7 linked regions of the Homo sapiens genome follow. The protein of the gene in region 2 purifies or fractionates together with the protein of the main gene of each other region. This does not show direct contact. Each region holds a gene or a part of one and is shown on either strand. Other genes may lie near its edges. The genes, in order: AMY1C, PLEKHG6, NUP214, KRT81, TMOD2, PIGR and DHCR7.

Region 1 (3,148 bases), on a different chromosome or scaffold from region 2:
ATATTACTTAATTTTTATAGCAAAAGAACTCATTATTCTCATTTTACAAATGAGGAAACTGAGACACAGAGAAATTATTTATATTGATTAAATTTTCTCAGCTACTAGTAATAGAGCCTATGTTTTAATCCTGGTGTTTCTAGTACTAATGCCCTTCCCATTTCAATGCCATTGCATGGCTTACAGTGATGTTAAGAAGCCCTTGCAGGCCAGGTGCAGTGGCTCACACCTATAATCCCAGCACTGTGTGCGGCCAGCTGAGAAGGTCAGCTGACCTGAGGAGTTCAAGACCTATCTGGGCAAGCTAGCAAGACCTTGCCTCTACTGAAAATTAAAAAAAAAAAAAAAATTAGCTGGGTGCGGTGGTGCACACCAACAGTCTTAGCTACTTGGGAGGCTGAGATGGGAGGTTCGCTTGAGCCTCGGAGATCAAGGCTGCAGTGAGCTACGATCATGCCACTGTACTCCAGCCTGGGTGACAGAGCAAAGAAGTCTTTGCAGTGCCTTGGAATGAAAAGGAGAGGATAACAATTTGCTACCTTTGTTTGAAATATGGCAAAAGAGAACCAGAGGATAGAGAGATGATGAAGACCCAGTAAAGGGCTATAAAAATCAATGAAGGCATTGGATTCTAGATAAAGTCACTGAATGCAGAGACACAAGTAACAGGATAGGTTGGGTTTGGTTTAAAGGAGAAGGAAGAGATAAATATATATATGCTAAAATTTGGCTTTTCCTCCTGTAATTAAGGATGTTAATGATTGGGTTGGGCCACCAAATGATAATGGAGTAACTAAAGAAGTTACTATTAATCCAGACACTACTTGTGGCAATGACTGGGTCTGTGAACATCGATGGCGCCAAATAAGGTGAGAATATGTATTTAGACATGTCCTCTAATAGTAAATTTCCGTAGCACTTTATTTAAAACAGTTGAAGTTTAAGAATATCAACGTTTTATATGGTATTGTGTTTTTAGGAACATGGTTAATTTCCGCAATGTAGTGGATGGCCAGCCTTTTACAAACTGGTATGATAATGGGAGCAACCAAGTGGCTTTTGGGAGAGGAAACAGAGGATTCATTGTTTTCAACAATGATGACTGGTAAGTAAATATCAATTAAAAATAATATTTTGTACCAGTATGTTCTTGGTTTATTCTTTTTTTTTTCTGTTCATTGACATTTATCATATCTGAAAAATCATGTAGTCAGTGGAGCGAGAAGACAATAGAGATCAAAATTGGGTAGAAGCAAAAGGATGATGGCTGTTACTCCTTCGTTCTCCTGTTTTCATAAGGGCTTTCTGTTGTAAGCAGAATCCTTTCTGTGCACCCTTGCAATATCTTATGCATATATAGAATGCACATTCATATGCTTACCTACACATGCCACAAAATACACAAAGTAATTAATAGAAGGATTGTGAAATCATTAAAAGAACGTTTCTTATAGTCCTGCTCTTTTAATCATGGAAAAATGCTGCCTCAGTACTAAAATATCTTTATTTCTCTTTTTCTCAATGACAGCTCTACCTAGTTTTTTGGTATACTTTCTTCACTTCTCTGTCTCCTTGTGACAAATAACATTTTTAAAGCATATGGATAAATAATATGTATCTTGTGGTTAATGATTTGCTTCAGGAGACTTGAGTTTTAGTTCTGAAACTTCTCATTATTGGCCTTTCATCTGTGATTTTTGTATCCTTTGGCTGTAGTATAAATGATTCCCGAAACTGTAGCTGAGAAGACCTCCTTGCAAACAGTTGAATTGTCTCTGTCCAAGGCCAACTGACACTCATACTTAGCTCACTCTAGTATAAATTATACTTCACTTATGAAAAATAAATAAATACAAAAATATATAAGTCAAGTTGATCTCTTTCCTGCCAAAAAAATGCGTGTCTATTTCCTTAGTTTCCTTCTTTTGTGGATGAAAATACCAAAAAAATCTTTTGTGAAAAAGCTTTATATTTCAAACTATCACTTCCTCATACAAATGCTAGATTGTTTTTATGTACACCCTAAATTCTTTTTGACCTCATGTAGAATAAAAGAAGGTTAAAAAAATAATACCCTTTAAATTTTTAAAGTAATTGGCATTAAGTTCAGTTGAGAAAAAATTTGATTTTACCAAGGTAGCACTTTATCAAAATGTGACCGCTCCCGCCAATCTTCGGTGATATTCTTCAACTTTGATTTTTCGGTTATATTTTCACTACTGAAAAGGAAATTGGTAGGTTTTCTGTAAGGTTACTTTTGGTCCTAGAAAGCTGTTTACACCTACTAGGGAGGCATATGGGTTTTCTTCTTAATGAGACTTCACTGCTTAGGGTTCTAAAACATAAAGTTATGCTGTTTATTTGTGTTAGTCTGTATTCTTGATTTCATTGTTTTGAAGTTAAATCTGAAATTTTATTTTACAGGACATTTTCTTTAACTTTGCAAACTGGTCTTCCTGCTGGCACATACTGTGATGTCATTTCTGGAGATAAAATTAATGGCAACTGCACAGGCATTAAAATCTACGTTTCTGATGATGGCAAAGCTCATTTTTCTATTAGTAACTCTGCTGAAGATCCATTTATTGCAATTCATGCTGAATCTAAATTGTAAAATTTAAAATTAAATGCAAATCCGCAAAGCAATAGCTAAGTGTGTTTCTTTTCTTACATATACAGTAATAGTTACATATCATTAATTTTAAATAAAAGCTCTAATTAGTAAAAAGAGGTTTAAGACACTTGATAGTATGAAATACAATTCCAGGTTACACATAAGTTATTTATTTTGGCAAAAGGATGACTCAAAAATTTTAAAACTAGGCAACAATCTTTACTCATTAAGAGGTAAGACTTAGCTTTCCAAACAGTTTGTCTCCTGTCTACTCTTTTCTCTCCTTGGCATTCTACCAACAAGGCAAACCAAATATTTCATTATTCTTCTCTATTACATGAAAAATCTGTACAAGGGAAGGAAAGCCAAATTTTACCCTTACATAGGTTTCAAAAGAATCCTTTTTCCATAGGCAACATTTACATTTTTATGCCTTTTTATAATCTTTTACCACAAACACATTTAAGTGTTCCTACACACCTTGCATGTAAATTTATTTTTAGTTGTCTTATTTACATATTTTTATGGTCAATC
Region 2 (3,500 bases):
TTCGAAAAAGAGTCTTCGCAGATTTGCAGAGATCCTAAGAGCTCAAGATGAGTTCTCCCTGGATTTAGGGTGGGCTCGAAATCTAATACTCACATCTTTGTAAGAGAAAGGAGGGGGAAATTTGGACACAGAGACATACAGAGAGGAAGGCCATGGGAAGACAGAGAAAGAGTTTGGAATTTTGTTACCACAAGCCACGGAACGCCTGGGGCAACCAGGAGCTGGAAGAGGCAAGGATGGATTCTCCTCTAGAGCCTCCAGAGGAAACTCAGCTCTGCCAACACCTTGATTTGAAACTTCTGGCCTCCAGAACTGTGAGAGAGTAAGCTTCTGATGCATTTTAGGCCACCAAGTTTGTGGGACCTAATACAGCTCCATTTGCATCTCTCTTCTTTTGAACTCCTCCTGCTTTTTATCTGCTCACATCACTCCCCTGCCCGACTCCTTCACTGGCCCTCTGTCATCCAAAGGACAAAGCTCATCTATAGGATGCTTTATCATGACATGCAGAGATGGGCATGACCTGGTGGCACCTACCCCCTAGCCTCTCCCTGCTGCGTCTACTCTTGTACTTGATACTGTAGCAATACCAATGGGGGCAGTTCTCTCAACACACACAACTGTTTCACAGTTCCCGCCTTTGCACGTTCTGCTCCTCCATGTGGAATGCCCTTCCCTTCCACCCTGACTCCCTGACATACTCCTAGGTATCCTCCCAAATGGTGCTCAGACATCAGCTCCTCTGTGTCCCTTCCAAACAGACCCAGCAGACAATGCCTTGCTCCCTTCTCTGTCCCAGCTTCATTCTACATAACTTCTCTCTATTGTTTGTATACTAATTACTCAACCAGGCTGCAGCACCTAGGCCTTGAGGGCAGGAATGGTGGTTTACTCTTTTCTGATTCCCTAGCACCTAGCTCTAGTGCCTGCCGTACTCAGCAAGTGCCCTGTAAATGTCTGCGAATGGAAGATGACTTCTAGAAGTTAATCATTTCAGGCTGTACAAACCTTCAGGGGATGCTGTATCTTGGGCTCTCCCAGTGGCTGGCACAGTAGCTGGCCAAAGGCTTTTTCTGTCTTCTGATGGATGGTGGAGGCTCTGCCTCCCTCTCTGGGGCACATCAGATTGTCCAGTCTGAAACTGAATCCACCCCAGCCTCTCTCCTCCTCCCCTCTGCGCTCCCATGTTCATTCGTTCCTTCCTTCCTTCCTACATTCTTTTTTTTTTCCTTCTTCTTCAGGGTCTCACTCTGTCACCCAGGCTAGAGTGCAGTGGCACGATCTCAGGTCACTGCAACCTCCACTTCCCGGGCTCAAGTGATTCTCCTGCCTCAGCCTCCCAAGTAATGGGGACTACAGGCACACACCACCACGCCCGGCTAATTTTTGTATTTTTAGTAGAGACGGGGTTTCACCATGTTGGCCAGGCTGGTCTCAAACTCCTGACCTCAGGTGATCCACCTGCCTCAGCCTCCCAAAGTGCTGAGATTACAGGTGTGATCCACCACTGTGCTCCCATTTCTGAGCTCCGGGGACCCCTGCCCATGCCTCCCCGTTGCTGGCTTTCCCATACCTGGGCCTGCTGGGTCTTCTCCAGCCACTGGGCACGGTCTGTAGGACTGGGACAGTGCACAAGGAGGGCGCTGGAGACACACTGGAATTCAGTGAGGTGGATCAGCAGGAAGCTGTCTGGATGGAGGAGACAACCTTCAAGAGGCCAGCCTTTATTTGATCTCCGTCCCAGCTCCTCCTTCCCCTCGCTGAGAAGAGGGAGAAGAAAAGACTCCCTGAAGGAAGGACGTACTGGGGTCTCGCAGGGGTTGGCACACGAGCTTCTCCAGCATGAGAGGGGGTCGGATGACCTTGGCTTTGTCCGCCTTGCGCTGGGGCTTGGTCACAAGGAGCACATCAGAGAAGAGGAACAGGTACACGTCCAGCTGGGGGTGGGGGCGTAGGGGAAAGAGACAGGGTCAGCTGGAGCCAGGGGCAGGGCTGGTCCGGGAGGAGGCTCAGGCATGGTGCGCAGGCACACAGGGACACACGCAGAGCCCAAATGCGGGAGTGGCCAGGGGCGTCGCTTTGGTCACATCTCTCACTTTACAGGCAGGCAAAGTGGCTGGCTCAGGGTCACACAAATGACTGGGGCTTAGCCAGAACCACATCCTCTTCCCCAAACCCCTCTTCTCCCACTTCCGGCGTTTCTGCCTCTTACCTTCTCCCACCGTGCCCCATCCCCTCCACTCTGTCCGCAGCACCCTCACCTTCCCTTCTCGTCCCTCCTTCACTCGCACAGGCCCCTCCAGCAGCAGCTGTCTGGTGTGCTCAGATGCAACCCCCAGCATGGGGGACGTCAGGTCCAGGGTGGAGAATGGGCGCAGGTTCTGAGGGACACAGAGGGGAGGGGTCAGGGCGCTCGGCAGTCTGCCTGGACTTCCTGGCCAAGGGCGGCTCCTGGTTCTGCCACCAACACCTTTCTGTTTGTATCCTTCCCCCATGGGCTAGAGAAAGCCTCCCAGGGCCTCCTTTTTGCTCTTCTGACCTGTACCCCTTGGACTGTCACCACCAGGTAGGAATGATGGACACCCTTGTAGCACCCAAGTACGGGGTGTTCTGGCCTTGCAGCCCTCCCCTTCACCAGTATCCCTGGGACCTTGCTTTTCCTGGGTCCCTTCCCTTTGCCCTCTCACCTTCTCCACCTCATCACTGGGTGGCTCCAGCACCTCGTAGGGCCCGATGCGTTGTGCTGCAGCCGCCAAGCTCTCTTGCTCTTCGCCCTGGCGGACCTGCCCATTGATGTGTCGCAGGAATGACTCCACGGCTTCAATCTAGGTGGGGTTGGGGGTGTGGGAGGAGGGACGGCTCAGCCGTCCCCTCCCAACCAATGCCAGCCACAGCACAGCGCCACACTGTCACAGACACACTAAGAAAGAGACCCCCCTCCCAGTCCCCGATTCACCAGAGTCCCAGCCCCACTGGGGCACCTACCATGGCATTCAGGGCCTCTTGGGCTCGTGCCTCGGGGCTCCTCTTGAGCACAGCATGGAGCAGCAGTGGGTACTTGGTGATGCGCTGGTGGGGCTTGATAAGCAAGTCACAGAGCATCTGCCTCCCAGAGCGCTTGTGCTTCTCACACCACTGCAGGGAAGGTGGGTGGGGCTCAGGGTTTGCTCCCTCCTGCCCTGCCTAGTGGTGAACTCAGCCTCAGGCTCAGCTGGAGACCGGCCGGCTAAGATGCACCCGTCCCCCTCCCCAGCACCCCTTCTCCCACCTGCACGAAGGCATGGAAGAGAGGGTTAGTTTCTTGCTGTTCTCGGGCGTAAGCCATGGTCTGCTTCACTCGGAGGCAGTACTGGACATAGGGGTGGAACCGCTGGCCAAACTGGAGAGACAGATACGGGAGGTGGGGAGCAGGCATGGGGAGAAGGCCATGAATACAGGCTCTAGCTGCAGGACCCAGGAGCAGGTGAAGAGAGCCTCGCAGGGGCCCTTAGCCCAGCTCC
Region 3 (3,500 bases), on a different chromosome or scaffold from region 2:
TCTCTAGATTAAAATATGGGTTAAAAAAAAATCCTTAATTATAGAATCATAGATCTTTGAGACAGAAGGGACTTCAAGAAATTCTTTCATAACGCCATCTGCCCTAAGTTGTTATCAGGAGGCTTAGGTGACTTGCCCAAAGTCATAGATGAATACATAATGTCAAAAGTTCCTACATTTTGGATGTTCTTCCATTCCAAGCAGTTTAAGAATGATAATAATAGTGAGTGTTTATACTGACTGTGTGTGTTAGACTCTGTACTAAGTGCTTTATATGCCTTGTCCCTCGTTCATGCCTACCACAGCCTTATGTAGTAGGTACTATTATCTTCATTTTATAGGTAGAGAAACAGGCTCAGAGTTTAAGTAACTGTCCAAGGTCCCAACATTATTAAGAAGCAGAGCCAAGATTTTAATCTATTGTCTGCTATTTATTGGTTATTTTGCAATTGTGCATTCCCCTTCTGAGAGTCCCCCTAAGCATGTTAGAATAATTGATTGCCATTTTCAAAGTTGTGTTGAAATTGTCTATAGCAAATAGATTGATGCATAAAACAATCTTTTTTTATGGTTATGGAGAAAAATAAACTGATTTGAGATACCTTGTGTATTCAGTAATTTCCATTGAATATTAAATGTTTCTGCATTTACTATTTGTTAACTTATTTCACTTTTGCATATTTGTTTTAAAAGGCTAAACAGCAAAAACGCCCATTTGCCTATCATAAGCTTTTGAAAGATGCAGGAGGCATGGTGATTGATATGAAGTGGAACCCCACTGTCCCCTCCATGGTGGCAGTTTGTCTGGCTGATGGTAGTATTGCTGTCCTGCAAGTCACGGAAACAGTGAAAGTATGTGCAACTCTTCCTTCCACGGTAGCAGTAACCTCTGGTGAGTAATAAAGGCTTTCACACTGTAGCATACAATCATGGTCATCTACTTAAGAATTGATTTCTAGAAGTGAAAGTGGATAGCTTTTTGTGTTTTGGTTTTTTTTTTCATGACGAGGGAGGTTAAGGATGGAAGGTATTCTTTTTTGAGACAGTCTCACTGTGTCGCCCAGGCTGGAGTACAGTGGCATCATCTCAGCCACTGCAACCTCCACCTCCTGGGTTCAAGCAATTCTCGTGCCTCGGCCACCCAAATAGCTGGGATTATAGACATGCGCCACCATGCCCAGCTAATTTTTGTATTTTTTGTAGAGACAAGGTTTCACCATGTTGGCCAGGCTGGTCTTGAACTCCTGACCTCAAGTGATCTGCCCTCCTCCACCCCGCATATGCTAGGATTACAGGTGTGAGGCACTGTGCCCGGCTGAGAGTATTCTTTATACCCATAGTTAATGTCCTTGAAGCCAAACAGCATACATAATTTAACCTGAATGTACTTGGGATTTCTGGAGAAATATTTTGGTACAGCTGGTTTAGAAGTGTTTTTTGGGAATAATTGTTTCTGGATCTGTAACGGTGGTACTCTGAAAGTCATTTGTACCTTTGGGCGGAAAAGCATTTTAAATATTAAATGGGAGCAGGAGAATGATTTCTGGTTTTGTTTTTTTTTTTTTGTTTTTTTTTTGAGACAGAGTCTTGCTCTGTCGCCCAGGCTGGAGTGCAGTGGCGCGATCTCAGCTCACTGCAACCTCCACCTGCTGGGTTCAAGCAATTCTCTTGCCTCAGACTCCAGAGTAGTTGGGATTACAGGTGCCTGCCACCATGCCCAGCTAATTTTTGTATATTTTAGTAGAGACGGGGTTTCACCATGTTGGCCAGGCTGGTCTTGAACTTCTGACCTCAAGTGATCCGTCCGTCTCATCCTCCCAAAGTGCTGGGATTACAGGCATGAGCCACTGTGCCCGGCCAGTGATTTCTTGGTATTTGGAAACCTTCTCTGTTCTCCTTGTCTTATGTAAAGACTACAGAGTTTTCTGTATTTTGCAGCTTTCTGGGCAGTAATCTATTGAAAAAGCATTTTTAGCTTTCAATTCAATAGCCCAGTGATAAATCAATTGGCTTATATCGTTAAAATGATTTTACTTTTTTCCACTTTGCCTGATAGAGATGATCCTACAATCTTCCATGGACTGACAGAGGAATGAGAATTGATAATTAGCTGTGTGTGATAGATCTTATTGGTTTGCTCCATTTTCTTGTTTTCATTTGGTAATACTGTCTTTGCTCAGTGTGCTGGAGCCCCAAAGGAAAGCAGCTGGCAGTGGGAAAACAGAATGGAACTGTGGTCCAGTATCTTCCTGTAAGTTCTTATCTTGAACTTCAGAATTTTTCTTAAGTTGCCCACTTTTTTGGGGGTGGTTTGGGAGTATCTTTCTTGTTTTTCCTATTAAAAAGTAATTTATACTCATTGTAACAAATCCATCAGTGAATGAAGAGTGGAACTCTTCCCTTTCCCATAGTCCTTCTTCCAGAGGCACCCACTATGTTGTGTTGAGTAGATAGCCTTCCATACTTTTCTGGATGTTATACAAATAGTCTATGGGTAGCTGCTTTTTTTTTGTTGTTGTTTTTATGTAAAATGTGATCATACGCTATGCGCTGTTCCCCACCTTTTTCAGTCCATTCCATAAAAACAGCTCAAGGGAAAAGAGTTAGTGAAAAAACTATGATGATAATGCAGAATCACTCTGGGTTAAAGCACAGTATTTGTCTTTTAACTGAGTCTGTCTTTAAAGGTCTGTTTGTCTAACTATGGGCACCAAAGAAAATGGATACTCTTGTTGCATGTGCACTCTGTCATCCTCCCTGTGAATTTCTTGAAATAATGTTCACAAATATCCTTCAATATCAATTGAGTTGCAAGGAACCCCCATATGTCTATTGAGCCTGGACACGAAGGAGGGATTCACAGGTGGTGCTAAGGCCTTTCTTGTGCCTTCCTCCTCAAGACTGTTCTCTGGCGAGGAGGGGAGCAGAGTGGTGAATGTAGGTGGTATAGGTTTAAGGTTAAGGTTATGTTTCTTATTTGTTATTACCAAAAGTTACCTGAAATTTGGTACATAATCTTTTAGGACACTAACCTGTAAAAAGATAATGCAATTTTTTAAATTTTCTTGCTTTGCTGTTTGCCTTAATTTTTTATTTATTTATTATTATTTTTTTTTGAGAGATGGTCTTGCTCTGTTGCCCAGGCTGGGGTGCAATGGTGTGATAACGTAATGGTTCACTGCAGCCTCAGCCTCCTGGGCTCAGGTGATCCTTCCACTTCAGCCTCCCGGGTAGCTGAGACTACAGGCACTTGCCACCATGCACAGCTAATTTTTGTATTTTTTGTAGAGATAGGGTTTTGCCATGTTGCCCAGGCTGGTCTCAAACTCCTGGGCTCAAGCAGTGTGCCCACCTTGGCCTTCCAAAGTGCTGGGATTACAGACATGAGCCACCTCGCCCAGCCTTATTCCACTATTGATGATTGTCTGCATCAGTGCTAGTGGCGTTGCTGCTGCAAATGGTGTTGCATTGACTACTCTCATTACCTATATCTGAACATG
Region 4 (4,212 bases), about 46 Mb from region 2:
GAGGCTGGTCTTGAACTCCTGACCTCAGGTGATCCACCCCCCTCAGACTCCCAAAGTGCTGGGATTACAGGTATGAGCCACTGCGCCCAGCTGTGATTCAATTTAGCATCACCAATCTGACATTTTATGCTTCCTGGGGTGATATAATAAGAGTTACACAGCATATTTTATGAAGTATTCTGTCCCAACAATGTTTAATTTAAACCTAATCCAGCCTCTAGCCCAGTGCTGTCCAACAGAATTTTATGTGAAAATAAACAATAAATAAAATAAAAATAAATAATAAAGAAGTGTTCTTTATATGCACTGTCTAATAAGGTAGGCACTACTTACAGGTAGCTGCTGAGGACTCAAAATGTGGATAGTGCAACTGAATAACTAGATTTTTAACTTATTTAGTTTTTACTAACTTAAATTTAAGTAGCCACATCTGCCTATTGTCTACCAAATTGGACATCCCAGCTCAAGATTTACTTTCTAATTTATAGAAAATACAAGGGCTAGAGCCACAAATTAAATTATGTAAAATGTAGTTTTAAAATCCTTAGGACAGTTAGGAAAATTGAATCTGAGATGAATAGTAAGTGGTGCTTTGGAATTATTGTTAATTTTCCTGAATAAGAAAATAGTACTCTCCTTATTCTTAAGAAATTCCTGCTGATGTATTTAAGGGTGACATGCCATGCTTTCTGCCACTCAAATAATTGGGCAACTGTGAAAGCAAATATGGTATAATGTTAACTGTTGAATCGGGGTAAACAGGTGGAGCATCAATGCATGTGTGTTGTATTATTCCAATTTTCCTCAATATTTGAAAGCTTTCATCATAAAAAAGATAAAAGACAAATATTTAATAATCTGCTGACTGTTCCCATGGTAGGAAAAGTGAGATGGTTTTCAGCTGCCAACTGAAAAATCTGGAGATGGGGAAATCCAGATTTGTGTTTCAGGAGCACTTTAGCCACAGCTGTGATGGAAATGAGAGATGGTATTTATTAATGCCTCAGCCTTTCCTGAAACCCCTCTCCCCACATCACACTTAACACACAGGTCTCCTCCTCCCAGTTTCTCCCAGCACCTGGCCTCCCTTCTCTTCCCCTCGCCAGGCTCTACTCCTCCTTCTCGTCCTCTCCTCTGCCTTCCCCTTCCCTCCCCAATGCCTGCAGATGAAGGAATGCCCTGCTGGCAAGACACTTTGAAGATGAAACATGCTGACTCCCCCAGAGCCCAAGACTGACATCTTTTACAAAGAAGAGGGTGCAGGCCACTCCCCCATTAAAGCACATTCTGGAGAGGCGTTAGACCCGGCTAACCACCCAAGCCCATAAAGCGCAAATTGCCCCAACATCATCTTCACAGCCAAGCCCCTTCAGAATCTGCGCATAAATAGGGCTGCGGTGCCCTGAGGAGCACATTGGAGTTTCCATCAGGACTCCAGGTCCCCTATCCTGTCCTCTGCAACCCAAACGTCCAGGAGGATCATGACCTGCGGATCAGGATTTGGTGGGCGCGCCTTCAGCTGCATCTCGGCCTGCGGGCCGCGGCCCGGCCGCTGCTGCATCACCGCCGCCCCCTACCGTGGCATCTCCTGCTACCGCGGCCTCACCGGGGGCTTCGGCAGCCACAGCGTGTGCGGAGGCTTTCGGGCCGGCTCCTGCGGACGCAGCTTCGGCTACCGCTCCGGGGGCGTGTGCGGGCCCAGTCCCCCATGCATCACCACCGTGTCGGTCAACGAGAGCCTCCTCACGCCCCTCAACCTGGAGATCGACCCCAACGCGCAGTGCGTGAAGCAGGAGGAGAAGGAGCAGATCAAGTCCCTCAACAGCAGGTTCGCGGCCTTCATCGACAAGGTGGGTGTCCTGGATCACACCCTTCCTGAACCCCCACCACCTACACAGCCAGGGCCGGGCACTAAGGATGGAGTCAGAGGCACAAAGACCTCTGCCTGCCTGAGATCCCAGTCTGATGGGCGAGGCACACAGACACACAGACAGACAGACACATGCACAGACACACACACACAGGCACTCAAGATGCAGACTCAGCTGACAGTTCAGATAGAGGGAGCTTGTGAAGGAAAAGTGTGGCCAGGCTGCTCTGGGGCACAAGCTAGACATCAGGGAGTTGGGGGAGGGGGGCATGTGACCACTGCTGCTGAACTCAGAGGGGTTTGGGCAGCCCCAGGGTGAGAGAGTAGGGTGCACTGACTTCCAGATGACACAGGGGAAGGGCTGGGACAGCTGAGCTCCCTTCCAGATGGCCTGTGACACCCTCTTCCTGGCACCATCCCCAGAAACCTCATCTGTGATCTGAACCTGAGTACTCTGCCTGTGTGGGTTGCTGATCACCTAGTTTCATAGTGAGGGACTGAGCCTCCACTTCTGTTCATCTGCTTGGGTTGGGGGGGGGGGGTCACTCAACTCCCCAGGGAGCAGGCACTGACACCACCCAGCCCTTGCTCCACTCCTGAGTGGGAAATCTAGACACAGATCATGACCAGGAAATCCAGAAATTGTCTGTCTCCCACTGCCCACCTCTACTCAATCTCAGATAAGCTCCAGATTTGGGGGTTCCCATTAAAGCACCTCCCCTGCGAGCCCCCAGAGCTGGCTTTGGGGCACCAGACACCATCTGCCCCACCTTCCCACACCGAATGGCAGGTGCGCTTCCTGGAGCAGCAGAACAAACTGCTGGAGACAAAGCTGCAGTTCTACCAGAACCGCGAGTGTTGCCAGAGCAACCTGGAGCCCCTGTTTGAGGGCTACATCGAGACTCTGCGGCGGGAGGCCGAGTGCGTGGAGGCCGACAGCGGGAGGCTGGCCTCAGAGCTTAACCACGTGCAGGAGGTGCTGGAGGGCTACAAGAAGAAGTGAGTGCGGGCAAGAGGGATGCTGGGCACAGGAATGGGGTTTAGGTTAAATACACTGGATTAGACAATAAGAACTCCCAGGTAGGGTGAGTGGCCATGACCACTAGATTGACCGAGGGTGGCGGGGTCTTTTCCTTTGTGGAATCTTTGCCCAGACACCTGTGTAAGAGGAGGGCTGTGACTCCCATGACCTGTCTCTGTCCCACTTCAGCCTTCTCTCCCTGAACCACATCACCCAGCAGCTCTCCCCTGCGCTGGGTGGGGAGGAAGCCTCTGCAGGGTCCAGGCCTTCTCTCCTGACCCTCAGCCCCTATACTTGTAGCACCTGTCAGATGTGAGCCCAGGGTCTCTCATGAGTGACAGGTCTTGGGCTCTGGGTGTCCCACTGCCTTAGGTTCTAAGTCCTGAGGGTCTGCGGGTCCAGGAGGCCCCATACCTGAGCTGGGATTGATACCAGTGAGGGGAGGCTAGGGCTACAGGCCCTGAGAGTCCACGCTGTCCACTCCCAGGATGGGGCTGGGGGCTGAGTCCTATTTGCCTCCTGGGGGACCTCAGAGCCCCTTTGGGAACAGGACTGGGAGGTCCCAGATGAGCACTCTCCATCCCCAGTTCAAAGTGGATAGAGAATCCCAGACACATCCCACATCCAACTAGAAAGCACTAAGCTAGGCTGCCAGGCCGGGGCTGTGTGGAGGTGTTTCTAGTACTGTCCCCATGGCTGTGATGAAGTGTGATGTGATGGTGGCTCTGCAGAGACCTGCCCTGCCCTGACCTCCCCTCTCTTCCCTCTGCTCTGTCTCAGGTATGAGGAGGAGGTTTCTCTGAGAGCAACAGCTGAGAACGAGTTTGTGGCTCTGAAGAAGGCAAGTGACACAGGATTGAGAAGCACAGATCTGTGGGATCTCAGAATGACAGATTCTTCCTGGGGACACACAGGGGGTCTCAACCTCAGCGTGGGGCACAATGACCTTTCCACAGCAGGCTAGGACTGCCCAGATGCAGGCCTTTGTATTGAGCATCCAGGGCCTTGACAAAGGGCAATGACTTGGGAATATCTACCAGCACCTACCTTGGGCAAGGGGATGGCTGCACTGTCCTCTGTGTGTCCTGCTCTGTTCCAGAGGTTGTGGTCTATTGCTGAGGCCCCTGGAGCCATAGCAGATACAATGTCTCTGCTGAGAGACAGTGCAGTCTGTCTAGCATTTTGGGGAGTCTGACCTTGAGGCAGAGACACAATCCCAGGGTCTAAGGGGGGATGGAGAAGAACCAGGAGCAGCCACTGGGCTCTTGGAGCACTTGTGGGGGACAGGAAAGGGTCAGGGTGTGAGAGCTGGGGGGTCAGT
Region 5 (3,134 bases), on a different chromosome or scaffold from region 2:
CTTCAGCTATAAAATGGGAATAATACTTCACTAACTACCTCACAGAGTTGTGGTAAGAATATAATCAGATAACTGGATAAAAACACTATATAAACTGGAAAGCGCCGTACAAATGTGAGAGATCAGTTTTATTATCAAATCACTGTTTTCCACTGCCTCTTGAATCGGCTTTATTCTAACCAACCATTACATCTTTCTCATCTTTTGGAGTATGGGTAATTGAGGCTTGGGTGTGTCATCAGGGACTGGAGTTATTTCAGCTCCCATGTAGAGGTGGGAGAGGTGGTTGATGGGGCAGTGGAAGTTAGATACCAGCGATGTATATGGTAGGACATTTTCCTGGGTCACTTTGACAGTACCTTGGGAAATTGTCAGTCCTTGCAGAGGGCCTAGGCTGGGCACAAGGGAGAAAGCGAACAGTTGACTAAGAATTGAGGGGAGGGTCTGGAGCGCTACTGCCCTCCTGTCATTGCTGTGGGTGGGAGAGGCTAAGACTTCAGGTTTGACTGGAGGCCTAGGAGAGAAGAGTGTCCTTAGGGTTTCAAGAATTTTAATGCCTAGCAGCTGAGTAACAGGCATTAGTTCTGATAGATAGTGAAGGGGAGAAAGTGCCACCTGTTGTGAGATCACCTCTCCAGGGCAGCAGCTGCCTTGTTATCACCAGCAACCTTAGCCCTGGTCAGTAATATTTCTGCTAAGAAAGGTTTTGAAGCATGGCCTCCAATGACTTTCATAAGCCCTTGGAGGCAGGACTGTGTCTCATCCATCTTTGTATCTTCAGTACCATCTTGTAAGGTGCCTTGTACATAGTAGGTGCTTAATGAACAAATGTTGCTTGAATTTAGCTGTCGTCCAGCCCCACAGAGTTATGCTCCATTTGCCACCATGTGATATTTTTGAGAAACAATAGTGATTTGGATGCCAGCTCTATGTGACTTTGGGCAAGACTCTCCATCTATCTTGTCTTCATTTCATCTGTAAAATGAAGTGAGTAGATTCAATGCTCCCTAAGGTCCCTTCCAGCTCCAATACTTGACAAGCTTGTGATTCTAAATCGTTTCCGTTGCCTCTGAACATGGGTGAGTAATGCCTCCACTGCAGCTGTTTCTCTCCAGGAGGCTTTGTTCAGAGGAGGTCTGACTATTGCACAGCCAGTTTTTTCTTCCTCTTCAGCAGTTCTTTACTGTCTTCAGAATGGTTCTGGATAAGCGGCCTTTTCTGAAAGGATATTTAAAAATATATACTATTTAGGCTGGGCCCAGTGGCTCATGCCTGTAATCCCAGCACTTTGGGAGGTGAAGGTGGGTGGATCACCTGAGGTCAGGAGTTCAAGACCAGCCTGGCCAACATGGTGAAACCCCGTCTCTACTAAAAATACAGAAATTAGCTGGGCCCTGTGGCAAGAGCCTGTTATCCCAGCTACTGGGGAGGCTGAGGCAGGAAAATCGCTTGAACCCAGGAGGTGGAGGTTGTAGTGAGCCGAGATCACACCACTGCACTCCAGCCTGGGTGACAAGAACGAAACTCCATCTCAAAAAATAAAATAAAATATATACTATCTTGCTCCTCAGAACCAGTGGGGAAGAAGAGGGAAGGCAAAGAAAGAAACTGAGCATAGTAAACACAGCATTTTTTTGTAGGCTCTTATTTAAAATGTGTGTGTGTGTGTGTATGTGTGTGTTTCTGAGTAAGTATTGACTGGGAAAAAGAGAGAAGTCAATCAAAAGTATACTGTGCAATTGAGAGAGGCTGGCCCAAGATTTAAAACTTCCTGTGGGTAATCTAACTGTGAGTAGATAGGAATCGGCCATATGACGAAATGAGATCAATAGGAAATGTGCTTTTTGAGGAAATTTTATTTTAGTACCAAATGTTGCCAGTGACAATCTTCAGTTAAGAAGTAAGTTATTCTGACCTAAAATTCTTATCTCTGCCACTTTGGTTTAAAAACAAAAACCCTTATATACATGGAATAGTTATATTTTAATTAAGCATTTATTTTAGTTGTTTTCATCCATTCAAGCAAAATGAATAAGCAGCATTTTTCATTGCACTTAAAAATGTAAAATACCTGCATGCCACTAATCTGTAACATTTTACCAGTTCAGATGCCTGTAATGTGTGACTTTATGTGTGTCTGTGTTGTTTTGAAGAGAATAAAGGAAATAATACTTTGCAAACTGTTTAAACAAGTGTTTAAACTTCTATTGGCAACATTTATTGGGCTAAGCAGTTATTGAAAACTCCGCATAGTTTTATTTTCCATTTGAAACTTCAATCAAATCAAGACTATTATATTCATTAGGGAATTAAAGACTAATTTGCTTTTTAAATGTGAAGTTGAACACTGTGTGGAAAGTAAATGTGTGATGAAGCAAAATGTATAAAGTATGAAATATTATACTTTTACCCTGGATAATTATTCAGGACCCCAGTTGGCCCAAATAGGTGCAATTTTTAATCCTTTGAAATTAGCCAGCCAGACCTAATGCTAAGGTAAATGTAAACTGTTTTAATTAATTAAGATCTTTCTGCTTTCGAAGGTATAATGTATCTATTTCTGTCAGGAATGATATTTCCAAATGAAAATGTAAAGAACATTGGGAAATAATAAACTTTCCTTTCAAAGTAAAAGTAAAGACTGGTTTTATATGGCTAATTTTTAGACAGTGTTTCTTTAAAACAAATGGTTGGCATCATGTTCTTAGATGAGCACATTTGCAGAAAACTATTAAATGCCCTTATGATGAAGAAACAAGACAACTGCAAGTAGCCATAACAGAGAGAAATAACTTGTTATCAAACAAAAATGAACACATTTGGCTAAATAGTTAAAAATTTGTTAGAATGAATGGGAACAGGAGTACAGAAAGCCCAAACAGGTTGACTATTTTACCCTGAATTTTTTACACTAATTTTGGATTTACATTATTATTCTCTTTAAAGCTCTTCTGATAATTTGTAATACTGAACACTAAAAATGATGAAGTTATGTTGTAAAGGTTTGACCCTGGAAAAACAGGAAAAACTGTTCTTCCTGCCCTTCTGCTGAACTCTGTCCCAACTCTTTGACCCTTGGATTTCAGTTTAGACTGATAAGGTTCAACTGAGAAACATAAAGGGCCAGTGTCTAA
Region 6 (3,500 bases), on a different chromosome or scaffold from region 2:
GTATCTGTGCTTGTGACTTTTTTTTTTTAAAGGGGCTTATATTCTCTGCATGCCATGTCCACATCCAGCTCTGGGTTTTCACCAGAATCCCCTGCATCTTTGGTCACCTGCTTCTCTCTGGATCTCAGCTTTAGCTGCCTGGAGAATGGCTATCGTCTTTGAGATGCCCCTTGGGGCCCCAACAATTAAGCTCACCTTTGCTACATACTTTATAGTTTACATCATACCATCCTAAATATATTTTCTTGATTTGGGCATAATCCATTGGGCCACTTTTGTGGAATACACTTGTTAGTGTACTAAATAGACAAAAACCTACACAGAGGGAGACTTTGTAAGAAGCCAAAGAAGAGCTGATATCCTCTCCTTCAACTCCTTCCATTCTCTGCTCAGAATAAGATGGGGGAAAAGAACAACATGTGCAGGCTGATGGGGAGACTCCAAGCCCTTGGAGTCTGGCCCTGATGGCTCCAGCTGCAGGCTCTGTGACATTAGGAAAGCTCCTTTTCATTTTCTGAAGAGGGTAAGGTGATGCGTGTAAACTTCACTCCCCATCCTGGCTGAGACCCCGGGAAGAAGGCTTCTCAGGCCACGCAAGGCTCTTCCTGCGTGGCCATCCTCCCATCCCATCTCTGTCTGTGCTTCCAGAGTCCACGATTCCCCGCAGCCCCACTGTGGTGAAGGGGGTGGCAGGAGGCTCTGTGGCCGTGCTCTGCCCCTACAACCGTAAGGAAAGCAAAAGCATCAAGTACTGGTGTCTCTGGGAAGGGGCCCAGAATGGCCGCTGCCCCCTGCTGGTGGACAGCGAGGGGTGGGTTAAGGCCCAGTACGAGGGCCGCCTCTCCCTGCTGGAGGAGCCAGGCAACGGCACCTTCACTGTCATCCTCAACCAGCTCACCAGCCGGGACGCCGGCTTCTACTGGTGTCTGACCAACGGCGATACTCTCTGGAGGACCACCGTGGAGATCAAGATTATCGAAGGTAGGAGTTGACAGGGAGGGAGAAAGCTCTAAAACCTCTCCAGCCAGCAGCAGCATCCCCAACCACTCTTCCTCCTTTTTCACCCGCCTCCACCCTGATGGGCCAGACCTCAGGAGGGAGCCCACCTATCCAGAGGTCACATTTTCATGCCTATAACACGCACCTTACACTCTGAATTACCATACATGGTACCTCCTACTACCAAGAACATGGGCTTCTTTCGCAGTGTGCAGGCATCAGCTGAAGTCAAGGATTGCAGATACCTCTTTGTATTGAGTCTAGAAGAGAAGGAAGAGTGAGGAAAGCAAACTGAAGTCCATGTGTGAAGATCTATGGTCTATGGTAGACTCTGGATTGATCATGGTGCTCATCAATAATAATTATTACCTAGGCACACAATTACATTTCTTCTGTAGTCAGAATAACATACTTATTTCTAATGCTATCCAAAGAGGATATGTAGACTGAACATGGTGGTGCATGCCTGTAATCTCAGCACCTTGGGAGGCCAAGACAGGAAGATTGCTTGAGCCCAGGAGATGGAGGCTGCAGTGAGCTATGATCGCACCACTACCCTCCAGCCTGGGTGACAGAGAGAGACCTTGTCTCAAAAACAAAAACAAAAATATATATATATATGTATATGACATGTGGACAAAGATTCCCACCAGAGTCACTTCCCTGCAGCATCTCCAAGTACCAACTTCTGTGTTTATTTCTACCTCCCTCCCTCCTCCAGGAGAACCAAACCTCAAGGTACCAGGGAATGTCACGGCTGTGCTGGGAGAGACTCTCAAGGTCCCCTGTCACTTTCCATGCAAATTCTCCTCGTACGAGAAATACTGGTGCAAGTGGAATAACACGGGCTGCCAGGCCCTGCCCAGCCAAGACGAAGGCCCCAGCAAGGCCTTCGTGAACTGTGACGAGAACAGCCGGCTTGTCTCCCTGACCCTGAACCTGGTGACCAGGGCTGATGAGGGCTGGTACTGGTGTGGAGTGAAGCAGGGCCACTTCTATGGAGAGACTGCAGCCGTCTATGTGGCAGTTGAAGAGAGGAAGGCAGCGGGTGAGTCTCCAAGGACAGGGCCTGCACCCCTCAGACCCAGAGGCAGGACTTCCTGAAGGCCCCTGCCTGAGAGCTTCTCAATCAGTGCTGGCCCCTATGTTTGGCTGTAAGAGGCTGAAAGTGGAGAGTGGGAAGGGAGGGGACATTTAGGTCCTATATAGCCTCGTTGAGCCCTTCAAAAGGGACATCTCAAATAAACATACCAACTAAGTAAAAATAGTGGGTTTGCTATTTAACCTCGGCATTAAGACAACTCCCAGCTGAATGTGGTGGCTCACACCTGTAATCCCAGCACTTTGGGAGGCCGAGGTAGGCAGATCACTTGAGGCCAGGAGTTCAACACCAGCCTGGCTGACATGGAGAAAACTCGTCTCTACTAAAAATACAAAAATTAGCTGGGCATGGTGGTGTAATCCCAGCTATTTGGGTGGCTGAGGCATGAGAATTGCTTGAACCCAAGAGGCAGGGGTTGCAGTGAACTGAGATCGTGCCACCACACTCTAGCCTAGGCAACAGAGCTAGATTCCATTTCAAAAAAAAAAAAAAGACAAGTCCCATAGTTGCCACTTCAACCCAGATTGAAGTCTCTTCTATATCTGGAAATATTCTTCTCTGTATAGAAGAATAATATGCATACATCACTGTCATATGCAATATGTTCATCCCCCTTCCCCCTGCCAAAGCTCGCCCTCGAAAGAGGGCCAGATACCTTCATTTACAAGGTCTGATCAGGAAAATTAGGAAACATCTAGTAAATTTGCATTTCAAGTCCCCTTTTAAAATTTCACATGAAATGTTTTAGCCCTAATAAGGGTATTTGTAGTCCCTCAAGAAATCCTATTGGGTCTGGACCCTGCGGATGGGACTCACTGAGGGGCCCATCGCCAGGCTACCTCCAGGGGGCAGCACTATCATACCCAGCTGGGCAGTCAGGAAGCCTGGGGCAGCGTCTCAGAGCCTTGAAAATCTCCCGGGCATAAGTGATGGGTCAGCCTTTATGCACAGCTGGTCTATGACACGAAGCCTTGAAGGTCCCCACTATACTTTTGGTAGTAATGGGGCAGAGATCATCTGTGACAGCTGAAGAAGGCCATCACAGCTGTTTCTAATGTCATCCTGGGTCCTACCCCAACAGCCTTGAGATCGAACCCTGACCCTGTGATTCCTCATGAAGTCTCCCCCAGACTCCTTCACCTCGAGGAGTAAGAGCATAGAGAAAAATCACAACCCAGGCCCACTCTTCCCTGCTGCAGGGTCCCGCGATGTCAGCCTAGCGAAGGCAGACGCTGCTCCTGATGAGAAGGTGCTAGACTCTGGTTTTCGGGAGATTGAGAACAAAGCCATTCAGGATCCCAGGCTTTTTGCAGAGGAAAAGGCGGTGGCAGATACAAGAGATCAAGCCGATGGGAGCAGAGCATCTGTGGATTCCGGCAGGTAAGGAAGGATTCAAGGC
Region 7 (2,242 bases), on a different chromosome or scaffold from region 2:
ACAATATTAAATTCAGATTATATTTTTAATACTGTTACATATTTGATGTTTATGCTATATGTCATATATATAGGGGGTATATATACACACACACATACACACACAGACAGGTAGAAGGCAGGTAGAGTTACTCATTTAATGACCACAACAGCCCTCAAGGTTGGTGCTTTTATTCACAGAAGAGAACACGGAGGCAAGGCGTGTGTCAGAGGCAGAGCTGGGGTTTGACCCCAGGCCGCTGGGCCCCCGAGCCCACACTCCTGTCCTCTCCCTGGGCAAAGCACCGCTTGACCCCTTCCCCCTCGCCCCCCAGGGTCTGTACTTGGTGTACCACCCCGTGCAGCTGTCCACCCCGCACGCCGTGGGCGTCCTGCTGCTGGGCCTGGTGGGCTACTACATCTTCCGGGTGGCCAACCACCAGAAGGACCTGTTCCGCCGCACGGATGGGCGCTGCCTCATCTGGGGCAGGAAGCCCAAGGTCATCGAGTGCTCCTACACATCCGCCGATGGGCAGAGGCACCACAGCAAGCTGCTGGTGTCGGGCTTCTGGGGCGTGGCCCGCCACTTCAACTACGTCGGCGACCTGATGGGCAGCCTGGCCTACTGCCTGGCCTGTGGCGGCGGCCACCTGCTGCCCTACTTCTACATCATCTACATGGCCATCCTGCTGACCCACCGCTGCCTCCGGGACGAGCACCGCTGCGCCAGCAAGTACGGCCGGGACTGGGAGCGCTACACCGCCGCAGTGCCTTACCGCCTGCTGCCTGGAATCTTCTAAGGGCACGCCCTAGGGAGAAGCCCTGTGGGGCTGTCAAGAGCGTGTTCTGCCAGGTCCATGGGGGCTGGCATCCCAGCTCCAACTCGAGGAGCCTCAGTTTCCTCATCTGTAAACTGGAGAGAGCCCAGCACTTGGCAGGTGTCCAGTACCTAATCACGCTCTGTTCCTTGCTTTTGCCTTCAAGGGAATTCCGAGTGTCCAGCACTGCCGTATTGCCAGCACAGACGGATTTTCTCTAATCAGTGTCCCTGGGGCAGGAGGATGACCCAGTCACCTTTACTAGTCCTTTGGAGACAATTTACCTGTATTAGGAGCCCAGGCCACGCTACACTCTGCCCACACTGGTGAGCAGGAGGTCTTCCCACGCCCTGTCATTAGGCTGCATTTACTCTTGCTAAATAAAAGTGGGAGTGGGGCGTGCGCGTTATCCATGTATTGCCTTTCAGCTCTAGATCCCCCTCCCCTGCCTGCTCTGCAGTCGTGGGTGGGGCCCGTGCGCCGTTTCTCCTTGGTAGCGTGCACGGTGTTGAACTGGGACACTGGGGAGAAAGGGGCTTTCATGTCGTTTCCTTCCTGCTCCTGCTGCACAGCTGCCAGGAGTGCTCTGCCTGGAGTCTGCAGACCTCAGAGAGGTCCCAGCACCGGCTGTGGCCTTTCAGGTGTAGGCAGGTGGGCTCTGCTTCCCGATTCCCTGTGAGCGCCCACCCTCTCGAAAGAATTTTCTGCTTGCCCTATGACTGTGCAGACTCTGGCTCGAGCAACCCGGGGAACTTCACCCTCAGGGGCCTCCCACACCTTCTCCAGCGAGGAGGTCTCAGTCCCAGCCTCGGGAGGGCACCTCCTTTTCTGTGCTTTCTTCCCTGAGGCATTCTTCCTCATCCCTAGGGTGTTGTGTAGAACTCTTTTTAAACTCTATGCTCCGAGTAGAGTTCATCTTTATATTAAACTTCCCCTGTTCAAATAAGTGGCTGTGTGGTTTCTGACTGGTGAATGGGCCTGACTCGTGAATGGGCCTGACTGCAGGTCTGACTGGTATACGTGGGCTCTGTTTCTGGTATGAGAAGGGATGTCTGAGAGAGATGCTTGGGTCTCGGCGTCAAAGCATTGGGTGCCCGTGGGTGCGTGGCGCCACCCTGCCCCTCTCCCTCCCATGTCAGCCCTTTGCTGGGGCTGTTTTTGGGTTGAATGTGGAGAGTATTCCATTCCCCCCCAAGGAGATGAAACCAGGCTTGGCCACCTGCCCCCGGCAAGTGAATGGAGAAGCCAGAAAGAGTGCCAGGTTTGTCTTGCACCTGGAGAAACAAGAGTTTCACACAGGCAGCCCAGTGCCCATGCCAGGGCAGGGGGCCAAGCTCAGAGTGGCTTCATTGCTTCACATGAGAACTGGTCCCACAGCCAGGCCGCCTCCCAGACAGCCTGGAGGGTATCGGAACTGTGACCCGCCCAGGCTGACTGCTGAGCCCT

Evidence for each region.
Region 1: the proteins of PLEKHG6 (region 2) and AMY1C purify together in Homo sapiens (affinity purification with mass spectrometry, with the first as the bait; 2 studies listed by BioGRID). This does not show direct contact.
Region 3: the proteins of PLEKHG6 (region 2) and NUP214 purify together in Homo sapiens (affinity purification with mass spectrometry; one large-scale study listed by BioGRID and IntAct). This does not show direct contact.
Region 4: the proteins of PLEKHG6 (region 2) and KRT81 purify together in Homo sapiens (affinity purification with mass spectrometry; one large-scale study listed by BioGRID and IntAct). This does not show direct contact.
Region 5: the proteins of PLEKHG6 (region 2) and TMOD2 purify together in Homo sapiens (affinity purification with mass spectrometry; one large-scale study listed by BioGRID and IntAct). This does not show direct contact.
Region 6: the proteins of PLEKHG6 (region 2) and PIGR purify together in Homo sapiens (affinity purification with mass spectrometry; one large-scale study listed by BioGRID and IntAct). This does not show direct contact.
Region 7: the proteins of PLEKHG6 (region 2) and DHCR7 purify together in Homo sapiens (affinity purification with mass spectrometry, with the first as the bait; one large-scale study listed by BioGRID). This does not show direct contact.

Annotation. Positions count from the first base shown.
Region 1 is NC_000001.11:103,756,045-103,759,192, forward strand, and holds the end of AMY1C (alpha-amylase 1C precursor), read left to right. Parts: intron 1-750; coding exon 751-869; intron 870-979; coding exon 980-1,105; intron 1,106-2,424; coding exon 2,425-2,614; 3' UTR 2,615-2,648; downstream 2,649-3,148. UniProt on the Homo sapiens protein: Calcium-binding enzyme that initiates starch digestion in the oral cavity.
Region 2 is NC_000012.12:6,317,182-6,320,681, reverse strand, and holds part of PLEKHG6 (pleckstrin homology domain-containing family G member 6), read right to left. Parts: intron 3,380-3,500; coding exon 3,269-3,379; intron 3,184-3,268; coding exon of another isoform or gene 3,136-3,183; coding exon 2,986-3,135; intron 2,826-2,985; coding exon 2,688-2,825; intron 2,382-2,687; coding exon 2,262-2,381; intron 1,938-2,261; coding exon 1,805-1,937; coding exon of another isoform or gene 1,725-1,804; exon of another isoform or gene 1,709-1,724; intron 1,690-1,708; coding exon 1,574-1,689; intron 1,112-1,573; exon of another isoform or gene 1,009-1,111; intron 1-1,008. UniProt on the Homo sapiens protein: Guanine nucleotide exchange factor activating the small GTPase RHOA, which, in turn, induces myosin filament formation. Also activates RHOG. Does not activate RAC1, or to a much lower extent than RHOA and RHOG.
Region 3 is NC_000009.12:131,128,586-131,132,085, forward strand, and holds part of NUP214 (nuclear pore complex protein Nup214), read left to right. Parts: intron 1-693; coding exon 694-892; intron 893-2,180; coding exon 2,181-2,251; intron 2,252-3,500. UniProt on the Homo sapiens protein: Part of the nuclear pore complex. Has a critical role in nucleocytoplasmic transport.
Region 4 is NC_000012.12:52,288,735-52,292,946, reverse strand, and holds the start of KRT81 (keratin, type II cuticular Hb1), read left to right. Parts: upstream 1-1,412; 5' UTR 1,413-1,481; coding exon 1,482-1,850; intron 1,851-2,660; coding exon 2,661-2,869; intron 2,870-3,671; coding exon 3,672-3,732; intron 3,733-4,212.
Region 5 is NC_000015.10:51,813,730-51,816,863, forward strand, and holds the end of TMOD2 (tropomodulin-2), read left to right. Parts: 3' UTR 1-2,634; downstream 2,635-3,134. UniProt on the Homo sapiens protein: Blocks the elongation and depolymerization of the actin filaments at the pointed end. The Tmod/TM complex contributes to the formation of the short actin protofilament, which in turn defines the geometry of the membrane skeleton.
Region 6 is NC_000001.11:206,932,967-206,936,466, reverse strand, and holds part of PIGR (polymeric immunoglobulin receptor precursor), read left to right. Parts: intron 1-648; coding exon 649-981; intron 982-1,720; coding exon 1,721-2,047; intron 2,048-3,300; coding exon 3,301-3,481; intron 3,482-3,500.
Region 7 is NC_000011.10:71,433,911-71,436,152, reverse strand, and holds the end of DHCR7 (7-dehydrocholesterol reductase), read left to right. Parts: intron 1-179; coding exon of another isoform or gene 180-313; coding exon 314-778; 3' UTR 779-962; coding exon of another isoform or gene 963-1,043; 3' UTR 1,044-1,742; downstream 1,743-2,242. UniProt on the Homo sapiens protein: Oxidoreductase that catalyzes the last step of the cholesterol synthesis pathway, which transforms cholesta-5,7-dien-3beta-ol (7-dehydrocholesterol,7-DHC) into cholesterol by reducing the C7-C8 double bond of its sterol core.